4 linked regions of the Homo sapiens genome follow. The protein of the gene in region 2 interacts with the protein of the main gene of each other region in a pairwise test. Each region holds a gene or a part of one and is shown on either strand. Other genes may lie near its edges. The genes, in order: KRTAP19-1, PLSCR4, KRT82 and KRTAP1-5.

Region 1 (6,018 bases), on a different chromosome or scaffold from region 2:
GTCTCATGATCTTCTGTTTGCAAGTTAGAGGCCCAGGAAAGCTGGTCTAGTACTTCCAGTCCAAACCCAAAAGTTAGAGAACAGGGGAGTCAATGATGTTAAGTTTCAATCTGAGACCAAATGCTCTAACCAGGAATGCTGATGTGTGAGGATAGGAGAGGATGAAGATCCCAGCTCAGAGAGCAAACTCCCTTTGCCTTCCCCATTTAGTTCTATTTAGGTCTTCAACAGATTAAATGATGCTCACATACACTGGTAAGAGTGATCTTTACTCAGTCTACAGATTAAAATATGAATCCTTCTGGAAAAACCCTCACAGACAACCCAGAAATAGTTTACCAACTATCCCAGCATCCCTTAACAGAGTCAAATTGACACTTAAAATTAAGCATCACAACATTCATATCATTAAAACTGTAATAAAAACAAACTTTCTTCTCACAAATCTTATAATCTATATCCCTAAAACTTAAAGAGAAGTGAACTCTCTTTTTCTATGAATCTTTGCATTATCTATAATCTTCTTTTATTCATAATTTTCTGCTTTCATCTAGTTTGTTATGCATGTACAACAAGCCTGACCTAAAAGTCCTTGATAAACTGGATAATAAAATGTGAATTGTAGTCATTCAACTCATTTCACTTGTCTTTTTATAGGAATATTGTGTTCTTTATTATCATCATTATACTGAAGGATTTGTAATGCAGTAGGGACTATAAACACACAGAAACATTATTATGAGGCAAAATATTCTGTAGTTTCAACTGACTAAAAGTGTCATTTAATATTTAAATATATAGAAGTATGTATATTTAAATATATAGAAGTATATATTTAAATATTACATTTAAATATATAGGAGTATATATTTAAATATTACATTTAAATATATAGGAGTATATATTTAAATATTACATAAATTTATATATTAAATATAAATAAATATATTTTTATATTTATATGTATTATGAATAATAAATATTATTTTATTTATATTTCAATATGATTATTGATAATTTGTTATTTATATTTATTAATATATAGAAGTATATGTTTAAATATTAATGAAATATTAATTTATTTATTATATATTATATATAAAATATATAATACATACATATATAGTATATATTGTATATAATGTATATATTTTATACAAATATCATTTTATATATTTCTATATGTCTTATATCAATATCATTATGTATACATACTTCTCTCTCTCTCTCTCTCTATACATATATATATATATACACACACACATATATATATACATATGAAGATAAATTTCAGTGAAACCTCATCCTTTCAAGAAATGGCCAAAACAATATTGTTTTTATAAAACAGAATTTCAGGCAATGATATGTGCCTACAGATGTTTTGTACAAGCTCGCCAAATGTAATAAAATGAGGACAAAAATTAAATCACACAAGGAGCAGAAAGAGGCATTACAATTCTGCAACGCTGTATTCCAATTTTGGAGGCACAGAAATTCAGAATATGTTATTTTTGTCATAATTGGTGCCAAGACTAGGATCAGAATCATGCCATCCTGAGTCCCAGGTTTTAGACTATACTTTGCAGACTCACCTTTTATGCATTTTCTTCTTGATTGTTGTCAGATAACCATTCTGAAAGTTCTGGTCATAGTTGTAAGAAAAGCTAAATTATCTCAACTGCTTTTATGAAGGTTGGCCCTTTTTCTTACATTAACATTGATGTTTCATTTTTATTGTTGCGATATACAGAATTAAACCAATCAAATTTTAGTTTATCTACTTCTGATTGTAACTAACCAATGAGCAATGTTAAAATCAGACTCTAAGTTAAAAAACAAAACAAAGCGCCATGACCTCTTCTTTGAGTCAATGCTCTCAGGGCATTCTGTGTACTACAACAATGGGCTGAACAGGGGAAATACAGCAAAGTAACTCTATGGGAGGTCAGCAATATTGTCTGACCCAGTAGAATAGGATTTCACTAGAAGCATTTTCTTCTCATTTGGATAATGTCCCAGGGATAGTTTCCATGGGGCTGAAAAGCAGTAATCAATATAATTGTTACTGCTATTGTTATTACTATAATCAATCTTATAATTTCATGCTGTTTAAGGTTGTATTGAATAATTTCTGAGATGATAGAAAATTTATAACAAAAATTTCCTTACTTCCAGGAAAAATGTGAGAACATTTTTCACTCTTCCACCTATCAACATGAGTAGAAAATAGGGTCATGAGCTAACAGTTCTTAAAAAGCAATAATGATCCAAATCTACTTTTGATCCAATAAATGGATAGAAAAAGAATAACCCCTCAAAGGAAATTTCAGAGACTTTTTTCACTTGCATATACAGAAAATAAATCAGATTTTTTACATATTCTTCAAATTTTTTTTCTAGTTTACACGGCTAGTGGACAAAATAAGCTATGCATGTCATAGTCATATGTTTTATTCTTTGAAAATACATTTAGTGTTTATTGTACTATAGAAGTTTCGCATTTGTGTCTCATATTATTTCCATATAGAGACAGTTTTATGTATCAAAAACAAACAAAATAGCCTTTAATCATGGTCACATGCTCTGACAGAGCTACACAAGAAAATGTGAAATTCTTAATGCTATGTAATTTATTCATAATTCTAAGTGTTTCATTAGAAATGTATATATGAATTGTATCACTTGACTGATTTTCTGAAATGGAGAATAAAAATGGAATGAAATTGGGTTACAGTAACACAGACATCAAAGAGGAAGGCTATTGTTGGGTTAAATGCTACTCTGACAGCAGGAATCTTGTTGGAACTTGCGTTCAGCCTTACAACATCTCCCAGAATAGCCAGTAAGTTGCTCATGTTATGCTATTCATGGCCCTTGCATTGATGTCAAAGTCATATGCTTCATTCAAATAATATTTTTGAATGCCAACTAAATATGAGACTTTGTTTTGACACTCAGCAGGTCAGAGAAACACCGCATTGTAAAAAAAAAAAAAGTGTGACTTGAACAGAAAGTCATTATGTTTAGGGAAATAAACAGGCACACAAAGAGAGGTATCACATGTTCTCACTCATAAGTGGGAGATAAAAAAGTTAATCTTATGAATGTAGAGAAAAGAGTGATAGATATCAGATGCTGGAATGGGTGTGTGGGTGCAGGAGAGATAAAAGTTGGATGAAAGGTATAAGTTCTATTGCAGAGTGACTATAGTTAACAACAATATACTGTATATTTCAAAGTAGCTGGAAGAGAGAGCTTGATTTATTCCCAACATAAAGAAATGATAAATATTTAAAGTGATGGATATTTCAATTACTCTACCTTGAACATTATACATTCTATGCATGCAATTAAATATCATATGTATCTAATAAGTATGTAAAATATGTATCAATAAAAAATTTAAATAAAATAAAAATTTTAAAATGTGTCATTCGGTTACTCATAAATCTCAAAAAAATCTTAGTAGTATGATTATAGTCATATAAAACTGATACCTTTCTGGAGTTCCAAGTTTCAAGATATAGGTACATCTGGATGAGGCTTAATCAGGTATGAGGTAAGCCTTGGGCATTTCTAACTCTATGGGCTGAGCTGAGGGACTCACTGGTCAACTCTCCCTACAGAGCTACTCCTTCTTTTCTATATTTTTCACAATTGTCCCTTACATTTAGAGAATTTCGTGTTAATCTAAGTTGCACAAATATTTTTTTAAATTTCAGATAATTTGAAGAGTTGAAAAATGTTTTAAACAAGAAACACCATAATCAATATCTTAGAAGATCTAGTTGATTTCTCAGGAAAAGATAACTAGAAAGCGGTTAAAACAAAGCACAACAAAAAACATGGGCACAGAATAGGCAAAGACAAGGGCAAATATTGACTATGGAGATCTAAATGGAAAGAATGAATGTTGATTTGAGTAAATAGGTTGTAGCCAGAACATTTTACCTACTTCAAACTTTTACCTGGTTATAGTAATGAATTGTGGAGGAAAAGAAGTTGGGTGAAATTTGAAGTGAGATCAGCAAAAGATGCAAGAGGGATGAATTAATGACAAAAGGTAGAGAAAGAGAAACAATTCTGTATGAAGGCAGATTATAATCTTCATTTTTTGGTAACAGTGAGGTTAGAACATATAATGGAGAAGGGACTTGAGATATAAATAGAAAACTCTGGAAAGACCAGATGAGATGGGCTTTTGATCCCTGTAAGAGTCTCTCCACTTATGACTACAATTGTGCTATGTTCTTAAAACAAAACAAATATTTTGTATGCTGTTGTGCAAAGCCCAAAATAAATATAACAATTGTGCATGATCAAAGTTTTAAAAGTCTACAAATTAGGTGACATTTGTTTCTTTCAGGTACATACACAGATGAATCAAATCTTTCTTGCTTCTCACTCTACAAAATATGTGTGTTTTATGAAGAAACTGATGAAAGTAAGAGTCTTGACCTTGGCTATTTCTTGAAATTTTGTGGAATCAACTATAACCACGTCCAAAAATGCTAGTGATGAGAATATATTTGAATAGAAATTCAAGAATTTTTAATGTGACTGATGTTAAGTGACTGGTAATAAAGAATTCTATTTAAGGTTTGGTATGTTTTAGACTTTGAAGAAGCAGCAATCCCTTCTAATAAAATTAAAGCAGCAAGCTCAGGGACAACCTAACTAGGTAGCCAAACAAGCTCAGGCAATCTTACTGAGTGTTGTCAGGGGACAATAGATTAACGAGCTGCCTCAGGCAAGTATAATTCATGGAATGACACAAAAAGAGGGGCACATGTTTATCACATGCTCTGACCAGGGTATATAAACCTCCTATACATGCTGGCATTCACACTCAGGATCTTGCCTGAACAACAAACCAACTCACCACTCCTGACACCATGAGTCACTACGGCAGCTACTACGGAGGCCTGGGCTACAGCTGTGGAGGCTTCGGTGGCCTGGGCTATGGCTATGGCTGTGGATGTGGCAGCTTCTGCAGACGGGGTTCTGGCTGTGGCTATGGAGGCTACGGATATGGCTCTGGCTTTGGAAGCTACGGATATGGCTCTGGCTTTGGAGGCTACGGATATGGCTCTGGCTTTGGAGGCTATGGATATGGCTGCTGCCGCCCATCGTACAATGGAGGATACGGATTCTCTGGCTTTTATTAAATGAATTGCTGAAATTGGAAGCAGAGGAGAAACCTCCAAATGTGTTTGGTCCTGTCCCGTGCTTTCATTCCAAAAATCCATTCTATTGCCTTCAGCATCAATGGAGAGATATTTAGCTATGTTAAATCTTTAAAATAGATTTAAGCTGCTTCTGTGAATATTTGTTGTCTTTTTACTTTCGGAGTCCGTCACCTGAAATCATATTCATGTATAACTACTCTAGGTTGTTCTTCTAAATTTGCTTTATTTTTCTTACCACCATTACCTTGATGTTATCTATCAAGATCCTAGCAAAAACTTGTATTTTGCTTTTATCTAATAAATGAAGTAAAGTATAAATATTTTAGTTCTTGTCAATGTTTCCATTGTCATATTTAACATTTTATTTTGCAACTACTATAAAAAGTTTACTTATGAGGCAGTGAGATCTGTGGCTCCATGGTGGAATATGATGAAAATGTTTCTAGTTTACTGTGTTAACGGAAGCTTGAGAACAAATAAGATATCATATTAACAAGAGATAAAAATAACTTGCCTGTCTATTTACTTAGGATGTCAGCCCCTCTCAAGTGTCCCTCAAGTGTTCCTGGAATCACTAAGGATAGTGTCATTCTCATATTCTGCTGTGCAACGTTGGTTGCTGTTAGCTGAACGTCTTCTTGGTACCCCTGTTCTGGCCAGGCATGTGTTTGCTTTTTGTCCACCCTTCAGTTGAGGTTGCGGCAAGGAGATTGGGAAGTTTCACTCATTTCCTACTCAGAACTACATTCTATATTTAGCATCTCCCTGAAGGCCATTGTCCAATATTTGACTGAGGCAACTCCCACTGAAATGCGGCACTGAAACCCAG
Region 2 (7,047 bases):
ATATAGTACATGATTCTACTGATGTGAACTATCCAGAATAGGCAAGTTTATAAAGGCATAAAGTAGATTTGTGGCTTCAAGAAGATGGGAAATGACTGTTATTGGGCATGGGTTTCTTTTTGGAATTATGAAATTATTCTAACATTAGATTGTGGTGATAGCTTCACAACTCTGAATATACTAAAAATCACTCAACTGTACACTTTGAATGGGTGAATTTTATGGTATGTGAATTATGTCTCAACAAAGTCATTACAGAGAAAAAGAAAGCTGGAGTGGTTATACTAATATCTCACAAGTAGATTTCAGAGCAAAGAAAATTACCAGAGATAAGAAGGGCTATCACTTAAAAGTAAGAGACAATTTCTTAACAAGATACAGCAATCCTAAGCATGACTGATCCTAACAATGGAGCTTCAAAATACATGAAGGAAAAACTGGCAAAATTGAAAAAAATAAAGAGAAATCCACAGTTACAGTTGAGGACTTTTACACTCCATTCTTAGTAATCTACAAGAACAAGCAGAGGAAAAATCAGCAATGATATTGGCACAACTAGACAGCATCATCAACCAACACTGACATTTGTAGGACACCCACCCAACAGCATTAGAATAACCATTATTTTCAACGTACGGAACATTCACCCAGACAGACCACATTCTGGCTCATAAAACAAATCTTAAAATATTACAAAAAAATTAAAATAATACAGCTTGTTCTCCGACCATAATGTAATGAGCTAGGAATTACTAACCGCAAGATAACAGGAAATTCTCTAACCACATAAAAATAAAACAACACATTTCTACGTAATCTAAATCATAACCTGATAAATTAAATTGGGCCTAAAGCTGCCTCTGTAAATAGCAGACTGCAACTTGATTTGAGGTTGTATTCTTGTAACAAGTAGCTGAGTCTCAGCCAATGATGGTAGTGGAGCTTCAGCCAATCACGGGCTGTCAACTGATCAGACCATGTCCGTTGAAGGCAAATGCCTCATCACACCATGACCAAATAAAGCAAATACCAGGCTGGATCCAATCAACTGATTTATGTACGTCACTTCTTTCCTCTGTTTATGAATACTGCCTGCCCATGTTGCTCGGTGGAGCTCTCTGAAACTCTTCTGGTTCTGAGGGCTGCCTGATTCATGAATCGTTTTTCGCTCAGATAAACTCTGCTGAATTTGCCTAAAGTTTTTCTTTTAAGAGTTTCACATGAGAAGTCAGATCTTGAAGCAAACTTCCAGTGATCCCAGGAGCACTGAGTGACCAAGTTAAGGTACCCAGCATGCCCAGTGTACTCACTGCTCTTTCGCAGCAACTGGGGTCATGGGTGAGATTTTTGAATCTAAGCTTCATGAACTTCTGATTTGAGCTGAGTTTGAGCATTTTTGATCTACACTGGGTTTCAAAGTCATGCCAACAACAGGACTGGGCCCAGTAGGGAGGCCTCAGGTATTTGACTGGGTCAGACATAAACTCAACTCAGTTAGTAGGTAGGAAAGGTTAATAAAAGACATAGAATCATGGGTTTATCTGGTCAAAGGTTGCTAGAGCTTCGCCCTCTGGAATTCTAGCCAACTTCATGTATAAAAACCAGAGACCCAGAACCTGTGCTTTTCGAGACGAATGGGAGAACCTTAGCAAAAGTAACTTAGAATGGCTACAGTGGGAAAATTCCTTACGAAAGGCAAACAGGTTTATGTCTTTACAGTTGTAAAGGCTACAGGGCCCAAGAGGATCCCAAAATAAAGAACCCTATGCCCCAAGATGTCTGCCTTTATGGTAAACACTCATGCAACTGGAAAATACATTGTCCACTTTTATATTAGCCATCTAATGGATCCACTACCTTTTGTCTGAACTATTTCTCCACCAGAGAAAGCCCCCAAAGGCTTTAATCCCAAAACAGTAACCCATCAATCTCTCAGGGAGGAAAAACAAATTCTGTGGTGGGGGTTTCAAATCAAACCTGGAAAGTTCCTAATTGACACTTGGACCATTTTCAGAAAAAAAATTTGTAAGAATTAGTTCTGTTATCTGTATTTCATCCTGCTTCTTCCATGGGGATCTCTCAATTGACTGAAACCCCTCTTCTCAAACTCCTGCTAACAATATGCTCTACCAACTGTATACATCTTTTTTTTTATTATACTTTAAGTTTTAGGGTACATGTGCACAACATGCAGGTTTGTTACATATATACATCTCTTTCTTATCATCATGATCCTGACTATGCTCCAAAACTCTTGAAAAACAAAAAAATAGAAAGCAAAACAAAAACTGTGTTGTCATTTATTCTTGAAAACAAAGAAATGAACAAAAAGGATGAACCAATCTCTAACTTTAAGAAAAGATTATAATATTCATGCAGAGTTCGGGCACATAAAATGCTGTATAGACTAAGCAACCCTAATCCAAAAGTCCAAAATCTGAAATGCTCAAAAATCCAAAACTTTCAGCACCAACATGATGTCACAAGTGAAAGATGATGAGGACACTGTTAAAACTGCAAAGTGCCTATAGATGACATGGTGAAAATATGTGATGGGTTTACTGAAGGACTCTAAGAGCATTCATTCATCACAGAATAAGAAATTGTGTCAGTCTGTAAAATCAACAGAGACTTCTAAGACAAAAACCATTGTTAATGAGACAGCGGACTCCAGAGGAAACATTCTGAAAAGTCATCCATCAGAATGCTTCCTCATTTGTAGAGAAAACACTTGCTGGTCACTTGGCTACTTCTGATATTTCTTCTCACTTAAAATAATAAAATTCAGTGAATGATAACCTTGTAATCAAAATACAGCATTGTAGGTAAAGAATGAAAGCCTGCCATTGCTTATTGGTGGCTTTCCGACACAGGCATTCTGGAGATACTACTGTGCTGCTTAGTTACCCTGAACGCATTCTCTTTTCACTGTACTAATGATACATCCTATTTTTTACTGTTAAGCACTTATTTGTGAGTAATGTAAGAAAATGATTACTTATCAGTAGCATAATGAATTTAGAGTCAGGAATGATGGTGACGTCAAATAACCACAGATTGTCCACATGGGTGATTGAGATACTGATACCTTTGCTTTCTGATGGTTCAACGTACGTAAACGTTTCATACACAACATTATCAAAAATATTGTATAAAATTATCTTCAGGCTATATGTTTAAAACATAATGGAACATGAATTTCATGTTTACTTGGGTCCCATTCTCAAGATACCTCATTATGTACATGCATGCCTTGTTTTACTGTGCTTTGCTATACTGTGATTCACAGATACTCCATTTTTTTAAACAAATTGAGGGTTTGTGGCATCCTTGTATCAAGGAGTCTATCAGTGCCATTTTGCAGAACAGCAACTTCTCAGTTTGTCTCTTTGTCAAATTTTGGTAATTCTCACAATATTTCAGACTTTTTCATAACAATCTGTTATGGTGATCTATGATCAGTGATCTTTGATGTTACTATTATAATTGTTTTGGGACCCCATGAACCATGCCTATATAAGATGGTGAACTTAGTAAGTGTTGTTGTGACTGCTCCACAGAGCAACTATTCTCCCATCTCTCCCCTTATTCTAGGACCTCCCTATTCCCTGAGACAAAACAATATTGAAATTAGGCCAATTAATAAGCCTACAAATGCCTCTAAATATTCAAGTGAAAAGAAGGTTCGTGCATCTCTCACTTTAAGTCAAAAAGCTGGAAAAGATTAAGCTTAATGAGGAAGGCATGCTGAAAGCAAAGACAGGCCAAAAGCTAGGCCTAGATTCCTCTGATGAATCTAGGCAACGTAAATTGAAAACTTTCTAAAAAGGATTCACCATTTTAGATACCACTAAGAACTTTTGTTATTCATGGGAGGAAGTCAAAATATAAATATTAACAGGAGCTTGGAAGAAGTTGATTCCAACCCTCCTGGATGATTTTGCGTGGTTCAAGACTTCATTGGATGAAGTACCTGCAGATGTGAGAGAATAGCAAGAGAACTAAGAGTTAGAAGTGAAGCATGAAGATGTTACCGAATTGTTGCAGTCTCATGATAAAGCTTAAAAGGATCATTGCTTCTATGGATAAGGAAAGAAAATGGAAGCCATTTCCCAGATGATTTTAATATATCCCCTCCTGGCCCCAACACACACCCCCTCAGTTACAGATCTATGAAATTTTACCCCATTCAGATAAAAACCTATCTGCTGTAGGAATCATAATACATTCAATCAAATGTTCAGTTTACCAATATAAGACATATCTATTTTTTCTCAAATCTCATTTGTAAACCCAAGTAAATTTCCTCTATACCAAATTCAAAATAAATCCAAAATATGCCATATAATATTTTTAAGTGATACATTCTCATTTTCACAGAAGGAATGCAAAACGAAAATAGTAGTGATTGTAAACTACATAAATATCAAGCACAATTGTTAAGTAAACACATTATCATGAAACATTATGATAAAATAATTTTCCTTTAAAAATATAGTAACAGTTTTGTAAAAATCATTAAATGTTTACATTCAAATGTTAAACATATAATCTGGATAATTATAATGATAGCAATGTTTTTAAAAAATATGGAAACTGGAGGAAACATGCTAAGATATAAACATTTCCTCTTTAAATTTTCTACAATAAATGTATAATAAATTATATAAACTGAGTTTTTAAAATAATTTTTAAAACCTGACAATGTACTCTCTTGTAGTGAATCTGTAACTAAAAAGACCTGCATGTTCATCAAAGAGGAAATATTATGCACACCTTTCCAAGTACAATCCTCTTTATAGACTTTAAGCCAAATTTCTTGGCTCCTATGGTGGACTGTGTTAATTACTTTTATGGGTTTCTTGGCTATAGGGAACTGGATAGTTCAGTGGGCTCAATATGAGTGGATTAAAGTCCAATGACTGAAGGATTCAGTCATTTCTGTAGACATCTTGTAAACTTAGTAAGTTTCTGTCACATGGGCTGAAATTAGAGAAACGAATTCCAGGCTTGCACAAAAGATAAACCTAGGTCCATGTTGATAAAATATGCTGCAGCAGGAATGTCCCATAGATACACAGTATCTTCATTATAATTACATGTTAACATATATGTATTTAATTGTATCTTTGCATAAAATCAATTCTAGAAGAAACTTAGGGAGTGATTAATGTTCAACAAATTACAAGGGCAAAACCTAAGATTTTTATTGTGTTGTTTTTATAACCTATATCAATATATTTATTATTTTATTAACATCATGACTCCTTCAAAAGAAAAAGTGTATGGTAGAATATTTCATTCTTTTTAGCAAGTGTGAAGGATCTTGGAGGTTAGCTATTTGGCTTTAATATAAAATAAAAGATAAGATTAAATGAAAGCAAATTGATAGCCACAGTCCATACATAACCTTTATTAAATATATTAATTTAGTTCAAATTGTTTAAAGAGAATATCAGGTGTCTCCTTTTTAGCTTTCAAAAGGGAAATGTTTTTGTTATTTAGAGTAGAAAAATATCAGAACAATATTCTCATGATGTTTATATAAGACATTAAGGAAACATTACCATGCCAACTATGATTACCAAGAACGCCTCATTGTGTCATTTTACAGCTAGTCTTTTAGTATTTAAAATTGTAGTAAAACAAGATGTCATGTTGCATACAGTTAAGTCACTTTGATAAGAAACTTTACATTTATGAAAACAGACTTTTAAAAAACAGATGTTATGTGCAAACAAACACAAATATAATTCAAGGAGTCGGCAGTGCATACATTTACACAATACATTTATACAAAAAAATCCCACCTACTCCAATTCCCATTTCCCATTTGAAAAGGCAACCACAGACATTAGATTTTTTTTCCTCCAATAGATTTTCTAAGCATATATAAACTAATACACACAGTTTTTATAAAATGGCAATCATCTATATACTTTTCTGTGTCTTTTTCTTTTCATTTATTAAAATGTCTTGATGTTAATTACATTTCAGTCCATATAACCTCATTCTTTTTAATGGCTGCAACATAATGTATTTAACTGGCTGCCTAATGACAACAAGTTAAATCGTTTCCAAATTTAGGCTATTACCAAAAATGCTGAAAAAAATATTTTCTTCCTGTGGATCTGTGCATTAAATTATTGGAAGCAGAACTGATGGATCAAAGTTTTGTACATTTTTAAAGATACTATCAAACTGCACTCTAAAGAATTTGAATCAATTTAGACCCCAGACAAAAAGTTACATTCCTAATACAGTATTTTATCAACATTTTTGTAGTAGTCAATCTGATATATAAAAAAAAAAAATTGGTTTTATTTTCCATATATCTCATAATGAGGAGGCTGAGCCACTTTTATTATTTGTTTGAAAGCAATTTGCAACTCTATTTCTGTGAACTGCCTGTTTGTCATTTGTTCATTTTTGTTAGCTTTTCATTTGTCTTCTTTATATGAAAGGTATTAAAATTTTATATTAAAATTATCTTTTCAAAACTTATCATTTGTCTTCACTGCATTTTTGTCATGCAGTTTTATTTTTGAGGCAGGGTCTCTTTCTGTTGCCCATGCTGGAGTGCAGTGGCATGATAATGGCTCACTGCAGCCTTGACCTCCCAGGCTCAATCAATTGTCCTACCTCAGCCTCCTGAGCAGCTGGCACTACAGGTGGGTGCCACCATGCCTGGCTAATTTTTAAATTTTTTTAGAGGTGGGGTATCGCCATGTTTCCCAGGCTGCTCTCAAACTCCTGGGCTAAAACAATCTGCCCACCCCTGCCTCTCAAAGTACTGTGATAACGGGCGTGAGCTACCGCCACCCAGCCTTACCATGCAATTAAAAACAATTTTTTTCCAACTTTAGATGTTTTTCTTTTTAAGGACTAGCATATCTATCTCTTTCATCCTGAAGAATGAGTACTATAAAAATGAATTTTAGCACAATGCTGGTGAACATATGAGTATGAACATTGCTGTATTTTTTGTTTATAAAAGTTAACTGGTTGTGAAATCCCTCAAGCAAAATTCTTCACTGCTGTTCTTGC
Region 3 (2,952 bases), on a different chromosome or scaffold from region 2:
GAACCAGATGTCGCAATCCTAGGATGAAGCTCGCAAATGTGAGCCTGGCACGTAGCCACCCCCGTGTTCTCTCTGCTCTTCTGCGAGTCTGGCTTGGGGCTCCAGGGCCCCCAGTGATGCTTTTCTGCGCCCCTCCCACAGCGCTGCAAACTTGAGGGTGCCATAGCTGAGGCAGAGCAGCAGGGCGAGGCGGCTCTCAATGATGCCAAGTGCAAGCTGGCAGGGCTGGAGGAGGCTCTGCAGAAGGCCAAGCAGGACATGGCCTGCCTGCTCAAGGAATATCAGGAGGTGATGAACTCCAAGCTGGGCCTGGACATCGAGATCGCCACCTACAGGCGCCTGCTGGAGGGTGAAGAGCACAGGTGAGCTCCTCCAGGAGGGGGTCAAAGATGGGCTACCAGGTATGGCCATTACCCAGCCCTCTGGTGGCGGCTGCTAGTATCTCTCACCCCGTCCCCTACCCACATTCATTGAAAACCCACAGCAGCACATGGTCCACAATGAGGGCGGGAGCGGGGAGATGCTGCATTTACCTGCATCTGTTTGATGTAGATACCTGTTTTCTTTTTCCTCTCATCCCCAGGCTGTGCGAAGGCATCGGGCCCGTGAATATCTGTAAGTAGATGAGCCATGCCCCACTGGCTCTGGAGTCTTGGGGGTTGATCACCCCAACACAGGCAGCCCACACCACCCCTTCCTAGACCTCTGATGCCTCCCCTACCCCAAAGGAAGAGCTCTGTCTGCCGTGAGCTCCCAGGCTGGTGGAAAGGGCTATCCAAATCTTTTGGGAGTCAGACTAGGAGCAGATTTGCAACAACATGGTCCAAGTGCTTCAGGGCCCAGAAGCCACAAATAACCACCCTGACAAGAGGATGCTCTTCTAGAGGAAGAGGATTTGAAGCAAGCTTAGGAAGGAGGGACCAGTAGAAACTGAGAAATGGTGAAGCTGAATCCAGCCTGGCCTTGCCCAGGCTCTAGGGAAAGGAGAGAGGTGCATGGGGACCTTGCAAGCACTTTATGTGGCTAGGGTGGGAGACGCGGAGGCTGGAGGCTGGAATGGGGTGTCTGTAGAGGTGAGTGGCAGGAGGTGGGAGGAATGGCCTGGCTGAGTAGTTTCAGGGCAGTACACTGAGAGCCACACCGTGTGGGGCCCTGAGCACCCCTTCCTGTTCCCACAGCAGTGAGCAGCTCCAAAGGCGCCTTCCTGTACGAGCCATGTGGGGTCAGCACGCCTGTCCTCAGCACTGGCGTCCTCAGGAGCAATGGGGGCTGCAGCATCGTGGGCACTGGTGAACTCTATGTCCCCTGCGAGCCCCAGGGGCTACTGAGCTGTGGGAGCGGGCGGAAATCCAGCATGACGCTAGGAGCTGGGGGCAGCTCCCCCAGCCACAAGCATTAGCATGATCCGAGACATCCAGGAGACAGAGCCCCTGCCCCATGGCCCTGGATGTCACACTCCCACCAGGGCTGAAGACAAGGATGTTCCAAAACCCCACCTCCCTTTATTGACTCCACATTCCCCTCCAGTGTTCCCTCCTTGAGAGCTGAGCTGCCCCTAGGACCCCTCCTTTGCCTCATGAGTCACCTTCCACTCACCTGTGTGCAGACCCTCAGCTAGGCCCAGATGGTGGGGACAGACGGCAGAGAAAGAGCATGCATTGCTCTTAACCGCAGAATGGCAATAACCCCCAAAAGGTCAAATGGGCACACCACAGTTCTGCTCTGTGGATCATCCCATGGAAGTTTCCTCACAAAGTCAGCTCCTCTCCCACCACAGGCTCACACTGCCCTTACTTTAGGCTCTCATGCCCCTAAGAAAAGTGAATTTCCTTTAACACCGCCTGAAACATGCACACTGCAAATATCAAAAGGAGACACCCCCAAATCCCACTCTAAATTCCAAAGCCAAGTGCCACGATTTCAGGATCAGTCAGGACCTGCCAATGTCCTCTCAGCACAGAGAATCAAGAGGTGGCCTTTGGGCAGTAGATTTACTTTCTCAGGTATGTTGAACCCAAACTGTGAGAATAAATCTTTCTCCTGAGCTCACATTGGCAGGTGATGTCAGGCCAATGCCTAGAACAAAGGGCAAAGGGATATGGAATGTTTACTGGACAGTTGGAAAACCAAAAACAGATACCATTTTCTCAATGGAATCAGTTCCCCCTCCACCCATCCCCTTCTGTACATAGCCGCCCCTTCCTGTTCCCCAACCCTTTAGCTCCTTTTGCTTTGAGTCTGATATGACAGTGATGTGGGGCTGCCCCAGCTGACTTGGAGGCCCTGGCTCAGGAGCTCATAGATGGAGGAGGTGTGGGCTGACTACCTCCCAGAAGCCCCTCATGCCAAGCCTGTCCCACTGGGGCTCCAGGGCCTCTGCCCTGAACATCTGGGCTTCTGTTCAAAATAAACCTACTCTGTTCATGGATTATAGCAATCAGGATTATTTACTCTGCTCTGTGGAAAGTGTGATAAGGCTGAGGGGGAACTGGTGAGCAGCTTTTTGGGACTGGAGTCTTCGGAACAGAAATGAAGACTATTATACAAACAGAAACACTACATGTAAATAATTTGCAAATTGCCTGTGGAAGAAATAGGGCTCTATACAAATCACACTTAAAACCTGCACGTCACACCCCAATGGTTTGCAAGTCACTTGCCATGTTAAAAGCCACAAGCCCATTGCACACAGGCCTCCTCACTACATGGTGTCCTATACACATCCTAGAGAAAATCCTTGGGGTCCTCTATTGTGTCTAGACTTAGCAGCCCCCAAGCCCTAGGCTCTGTCCCTATCCCGAACCATTCTCAGTGCCTGGATACCCCCAGCTCCAGGAAAGCAGTGAAGATGGTGGCAGCCCATGGAGTGAGGAGGACCAGGACACTCCAGTCTCCTCTCCCCATTTAGAGAGCCCAAGACCTGGAGATTTGGCGGCGGTGCTTCCACCCTCT
Region 4 (6,505 bases), on a different chromosome or scaffold from region 2:
ATGGCCAATGATCCTCAATAAAAGAAAAGCTCCCACATTTGCTTTCGACTTGGAAATATGTGTCTTTTTACCATTACTTAACTTTTTAATGCACTTTATGTCTTCTTTGGTGTCATATATAGGAAATTGCCATTTTGAGAGCTTGCTGCAGTTTATTGCATAGTGTAATGGAGTGCAGTAGCATGATCTTAGCTCACTGAAACCTCTGCCTCCTGGGTTCAAGCGATTCTCCTTCCTCAGCCTCCCAAGTAGCTGGGACTACAGGTGTGCACTACCACGCCCAGCTAATTTTTTTTTTTTTTTTTTGTATTTTTAGTAGAGACAGGGTTTCACCATGTTGCCCAGGCTGGTCTCAAACTCGTGAGCTCAGGTAATCCACTCACCTCAGCCTCCCAAAATGCTAGGATTACAGGTGTGAACCACTGCTCTTGGCCTCAAGTAGACATTCTTGAATTATAAGCAGTTAAACCAGGTGATGTACAAGTGAAAACAAAGACAATGGTTTCTTTGCCTAGTATATAATATTTATTAAGAAATGACAGAAGACATTGTATCACAGATATAACTGAAATATCCAGCAGGCAAGATCATTATGATCCAAAAACCAAGGGATGGATCAGATGTTAAAATGTGGAAAGTCCAGCCTACTTCTTAGAAGCTGAATGTTGGGTGATGAGCTTCCATTCTCTCTGGTGACTTGAGGAATGTCACTTGGCTATAATTTGGTGTCTTTGATGTTGCAAAAAATTTTAGGTAAACAAGATAAAATAGATTATAAAGCATGGAAACATTAGACTTGTGGATAGTTCTCATGGATAAATTCCACAACATGTCAGTAATTTTTAATCCTGCAGAAATATCAGAAATAGTATATCCCAAGCAAATTGATGATCAGCAGGTGGCTTTGTAGCATTTCTGTGTCCCCAGTGAAGGGTCAAGGTATTCATTGTAGAATGGAATCAGATAGAATTGTGAGCTCATATACTTAGTAGTCTCCATCACAAGCAATGCAAAGTCTGAGAACTTGTTAGTGGTCCAGAGGTGGTCAAGGGATGAACAGTTCAGAGACACTGTGACCTAGGCAATTGAAAATAAGCAAACTGGCTTTCAGCAAGTGGGCTCACAGCAGCAGACTGGGCGGCAGCAGGACTGTCCACAGTAGGACGGGCGGCAGCAGGAGGCCTGGGCATGGTGCAGTTGGCAGCAGGATGGGGGCGTGCAGCTCACCACACAGCAGGGGGGTAGGTAGGTGCCCTCCACACGACTGTCTGGGCGGCACCACCTGATACGGGTGCTCACAGCTCCACTGCTGCCCTCCTGGCCATAGCTGATGCCACCACCAATGCCACAGCCAGTTCCGCAGGAGCTGATCTGGCAGCAGCTTGGCTGGCAGCAGCTGGTCTCACAGCAGCTTGGCTGGCAGCAGCTGGTCTCACAGCAGCTTGGCTGGCAGCAACTGGAGCTGCAGGTCCCACTGGTTGAGAAGCTGGGAAATCCGCAGAAGCTAGTCTGGCAGCTGCGTGGCTGGCAGCAGCTGGTCTCACAGCAGCTTGGCTGGCAGCAGCTGGAGCCACAGGTCCCACTGATGGAGAAGCTGGGATATCCACAGAAGCTGGTCTGGCAGCAGGTCATGGTGTCAGAAGTTGGGTTAAGAGTTAGGTTGCTTGGAGGAGTTTCTGAGGTTTGGTGGTGACTTCCACGTTGGTCCTTTTATATATCTGAACCAGCTGCTGTTTACAAAATTGTTAACATATTTTCTTTGTTTTTGTTTAAATTTGTTACTCCGTGGATCTCTGATTGGCTTATGTTGAAATACTTGTGACACATTATGAGCAATAGTTTAGAAATTACTGTTTTATAGTTTCTTCTGGACTCCTCATATCAGTCCTTTGCTCTTTGGAATATGTTTGTGGTTTCCCATGTTCAAAGAGTACTTCCATTTTAGTCCAAATGAATGCTCTCATTTTACATAATAGTTATTCCACGTGACAATCTATCCATACCTCTAAGGCTAAGAGTAATAATTGTGCTGTTATATTTAACTATTATTTTTTCCTCCTAGATATATAGACTAAATTTTATTGAATTTTGGATATCTGGATATCTACTGAACTGAAGGAATACCTTTGGTCATACATAATTCGCAGATTTCACCTTTTTTTGTTCCAATGTCTTATTGAATTACCGATTATAGTTCCTTTGATTTCAACCAATTTGGAATGTGTGACTATTATTCCTGTTCCAGACCAGAAATCTGTTCTTGGGAACCAAACTGACATAGTATTTAGGAAGGTATCCAGCAGAGTCCTTAGTTTGTGGTAGAACCTTAATAAATGTTTACTGAATCTGATTCAATAAATGTTTATTGAATAGGTGGAGTAAAAGGCTTGATTCATGGATATCAATACCACTCAAACATGATTAAAGAGAACTTTCAAGCTGTAGTACTTCTCATGAAAGAGTCTTGTTATTTGCTGTAAAGAGACTAGGAAATGTGTTTTTTGGTTTATTTTATTTTATTTTTTGGATTTAGTAGTGGAACCGGGCTCGGGAAAAAATATCTAGGAGTTATGACACTTTGAAAAATGTACTGCCATCTACTTTATTCCTCTTGGAAATTGCATAATTTTGTGTGTAATCCATCATTGCTACCAATTAAATATAGAGGTAAGTTCTGGGAGCTTGTAAATAATGTGGAAAACGTGTTTCTTTCTATATTTGCATCCTATTGTATTTTGTGTATTACACTCTAATGCCTAATGAAGAATTTAAAAATTAAATGGTAAAATATGTTTTGTTTTGTTCTAGGTTGTGTTAATTTTTTTTTTTGAGACAGAGTCTTGCTTGTTGCCCAGGCTGGAGTGCAGTGGCGTGATCTTGGCTCACTGCAAGCTCTGCCTCCCAGGTTCACGCCATACTCCTGCCTCAGCCTCCCAAGTAGCTGGGACTGCAGGCACCCACGACCACACCTGACTAATTTTTTTTTTGTATTTTTAGTAAAGACTGGGTTTCACCATATTAGTCAGGATGGTCTCAATCTCCTGACCTCGTGATCCACCCATCTCAGCCTCCCAAAGTGCTGGGATTACAGGCGTAAGCCACCGTGTCCAGCGTGTTAACTTCTTAAGAGAATATCTTTTAAGTTGGGTTGCAAAGTGCAAAATATAATCGAGCTGTTTCAGATTTCTAACACTTCTGTCTGACAAATGGCAATGGTAGAACTCAGCGGGTGCTCTCTATAGCTGTTTCTTCTACTATCATTTAGACCAAAGATACACCTTATGCATACGTACATCAAATGAAGGTGAATAGTGGGAGTTGAAGCTTAGAGAGCAATTCAAGGATCAGTGGGAAGAATGTGAAAGGCTAAGGTGTAGAAATTAAACCTAAATTCTCTTGGAAAATAGGTAGTATCTAGTAGCTATTTTTAAATCTATTTAGAAGGTAATGCAATTTCTTTAGATTTTGGGGCATAAATGAAGGAGAACATTTAGTATATTAAATGGAAGGAGACAAAAGATGGTAGAATTACATTTAGATAGAAATCAATAGCTTTGATCAACCTTAACATTTTAGCTAAAGGTCAACCTTTATTGGTCTAGACCTAATCATAATAGATTAGAGCATGTAAATATTTGAACTATAAAAATTCTTTAATTCATGGAGCATTTTTAAGCTGATGGATTCAAGCATAATTTACTTTGTATTTAATCTTTCTGGTTTAGACTTTATGGTTATGCCTTGGTATTATTATCAAATTGCAAATCCACTCTTGAATACCAGCTACAAGAAGACATGTTTAAAGGTAGAAGGAGGACATAACTCAGTTTGCTTTGCACATTAAAACATTTTATTTGGATTAATCAGAGATATTCAAGGAAAAACCAGGTCTGAAGATGCATGAGCATCAAGAGAGAGTTGGGGGAGCAGAGATGTCACTGAAATGATGAACTATTCCATCCTGGTCCTCTGCTCAAGCAACGCAAGCTATCCAGAACACTGATTGATACATCTTTCAGTAAGTGAATTCGGCACATCCACAGTGTCCTAACTAGGAGTTTCATTATCTCTGAGCAGCTTAACAACATCATGGTACTTAGCATCCAAGTAAAATCGAACAGTTCTTCAGAAATCAGCACAATTTTGCTGTGCTTCCCCTTTCATTCTTAAGCGATCAGCAACCTGGCTTTTAGCAGGTGGGCTCACAGCAGTGGCAGCAGCAGGCTGGGCGGCAGCAGGACTGTCCACAGTAGGACGGGCGGCAGCAGGAGGCCTCGGCGTGGTGCAGCTGGCAGCAGGATGGGGGTGTGCAGCTTACCAGGTAGCAGGGGGGCAGGCAGGTGCCCTCCACGTGGCAATCTGGGTGGCACCACCTGATACGGGTGCTCACAGATCCACCGCTGCCCTCCTGGCCATAGCCAATGCCACCACCAATGCCACAGCCGGTTCCGCAGGAGCTGGTCTGGCAGCAGCTTGGCTGGCAGCAGCTAGTTTCACAGCAGCTTGGCTGGCAGCAGCTGGAGCCACAGGTCCCACTGGTGGAACAGCTGGCCATGGTGTCAGGAGTTGGGTTGAGAGCTGTGTTAAGAGAGGTTTCTGAGTTTGGGCTGTACCTTCTATATCTGTCCTTTGATATGTTCCCTAGAGCTGCATATTTACCCAACACCTTTTCTTGATGTCAATTTCAGTGTGAGTCTCTGGCTAATACCTGAGGTGTTTATAAAGTTATAAATAGCATTTCAATAGCCTTTTTCCATTGTACAATTAAGTCTCATTATGTTTCTTCTTTGCCCTCTGGGCGAAGTGAAGGCTCATCATGGAAGCCAAGCACCGAAGTGCCTCTTTATGCAAGTCACATGACAGACTAGCCTTGAGCCAAGTGTCGCCCTGGCACGTTTTGTCATAGTTGTCCTTTGATAACCTTTAGGCAGAATTTATCTTAACTGATCATTTTTCCTTAAATGGTCACTTAACTATGATCATGATTTTATAAACAATTTGTCCAGACTTGGAAAGACTAACATTAGTGTCATCAAAACATGAACTACAACCTGATGTATCAACTTTCAAACCAAGTATGCCTTTCTATGATCAATTTGTGCAAGTTATAGGATCCTCAGAGCTCTATCTAATATTCTTGCCTTCAGTAATAGTGAATGTACAAATTGCTAACTAAAATCTTTAATGACTTTTGCTTGTAGATTGTTTTCTGACTCTATTAAATTAAACATATGTGCTAGTAATGAGTACACATTGTAACAAGTCAAAGAGTACAGAGGTATATAAAGAAAAATTAGTGTCTTTTCCCTTCCTGGAAGATGCACACATCTCTTCCAAAACTAATGCTCTAGAGGTAATCAATATTAAGAATTTGGTGCACATTCTTTGACACCTTTATCCTTGCTTCTGCAAATATAAACCAGCATATATACATATATATCTTCTATTTCAGAAAAGTTTGGGTCTCCTACACATGTTTATAGTTACAAATTTTTAATTGTGGTAAAATATACATACCATAAAATTTATGAACCATTTACATTAACCATCTTAACCATTTGTAAATAGTCTTGTCACCCTTGTTGAAAATCATTTGACCACATTCACATTCAGAAGAAATGAAATTAGACCATTGTCTCACATTATATACAAAAACCAACTTAGAATGGATTAAAAGACTGAAATGTAAGAAAGACTCAAAATGATAAAACTATAAGAAGAAAACAGAGGAAACTCCATGACTTTTGCCTGGCCAATATTGTGATATTGTGAACATGAATCCAAAAGCATCAGCAAAAATAGACAAGTGGGATTACATCAAACTAAAAAGCTTCTGCACAGCCAATAAAACACTAAACTGAGTGAAGACGCAAACCGCTGAATGGGAGAAAATATTTATAAACCACATATCTGATAAAGGGTTAATATCCAAAGTATAGAGGAAACTCAAACAACTCAATACCTGTAGTAAGAAAACAAATAACGTAATTGAAAAATGGGCAAAAAATCTAAATAGACATTTCTCAAAAAAAATCTACAAATTGCCAACAGGTATATGAAAAATTTTCAAAATCACCAATCATCGGATAATGCAAATTGAAACCACAATGAGATATCGTCTCACACATATTAGATAGTTATTATCAAAAAGACAAAAGATAGCAAGTGTTGGAGAGGAAGTGGAGAAAAGAGAACTCTGGCACACTGTTGGTGGAAATGTAAATTAGTACAGCCATTATGGAAAACAATATGAAGGTTCATCAGAAAATTAAAAATAGAACTGTCATATAATCAAGCAATCCCACTTCTGTGTATATACCCGAAGGAAAGTAAATCAGTATTTTGAAGAGACATCTGCATTCCCATGTTCATTGCAGCATTACTCACAATAGCCAAGATATGGAAGCAACCTAAGTGTCCATGTCCATCATTAAATGAGTGGATAAAGAAAATGTGATACACACACACATACACACACACACACTCACACACTGGAATATTATTG

What was found.
Region 1: the proteins of PLSCR4 (region 2) and KRTAP19-1 interact in binary tests that used the Homo sapiens proteins (3 or more experiments, as listed by UniProt).
Region 3: the proteins of PLSCR4 (region 2) and KRT82 interact in binary tests that used the Homo sapiens proteins (3 or more experiments, as listed by UniProt).
Region 4: the proteins of PLSCR4 (region 2) and KRTAP1-5 interact in binary tests that used the Homo sapiens proteins (3 or more experiments, as listed by UniProt).

What each region holds. Positions count from the first base shown.
Region 1 is NC_000021.9:30,479,195-30,485,212, reverse strand, and holds KRTAP19-1 (keratin-associated protein 19-1), read left to right. Parts: upstream 1-4,845; 5' UTR 4,846-4,895; coding exon 4,896-5,168; 3' UTR 5,169-5,507; downstream 5,508-6,018. UniProt on the Homo sapiens protein: In the hair cortex, hair keratin intermediate filaments are embedded in an interfilamentous matrix, consisting of hair keratin-associated proteins (KRTAP), which are essential for the formation of a rigid and resistant hair shaft through their extensive disulfide bond cross-linking with abundant cysteine residues of hair keratins.
Region 2 is NC_000003.12:146,241,095-146,248,141, forward strand, and holds part of PLSCR4 (phospholipid scramblase 4), read right to left. Parts: intron 1-7,047. UniProt on the Homo sapiens protein: Catalyzes metal ion-induced ATP-independent rapid bidirectional and non-specific movement of phospholipids (lipid scrambling or lipid flip-flop) between the inner and outer leaflet of the plasma membrane and participates in the redistribution of phospholipids between membrane leaflets.
Region 3 is NC_000012.12:52,393,422-52,396,373, reverse strand, and holds the end of KRT82 (keratin, type II cuticular Hb2), read left to right. Parts: intron 1-141; coding exon 142-362; intron 363-583; coding exon 584-615; intron 616-1,178; coding exon 1,179-1,399; 3' UTR 1,400-2,443; downstream 2,444-2,952.
Region 4 is NC_000017.11:41,025,524-41,032,028, forward strand, and holds KRTAP1-5 (keratin-associated protein 1-5), read right to left. Parts: upstream 1,686-6,505; 5' UTR 1,633-1,685; coding exon 1,108-1,632; 3' UTR 503-1,107; downstream 1-502. Other genes in the region: KRTAP1-4 (keratin-associated protein 1-4), read right to left, coding at 4,190-4,555. UniProt on the Homo sapiens protein: In the hair cortex, hair keratin intermediate filaments are embedded in an interfilamentous matrix, consisting of hair keratin-associated proteins (KRTAP), which are essential for the formation of a rigid and resistant hair shaft through their extensive disulfide bond cross-linking with abundant cysteine residues of hair keratins.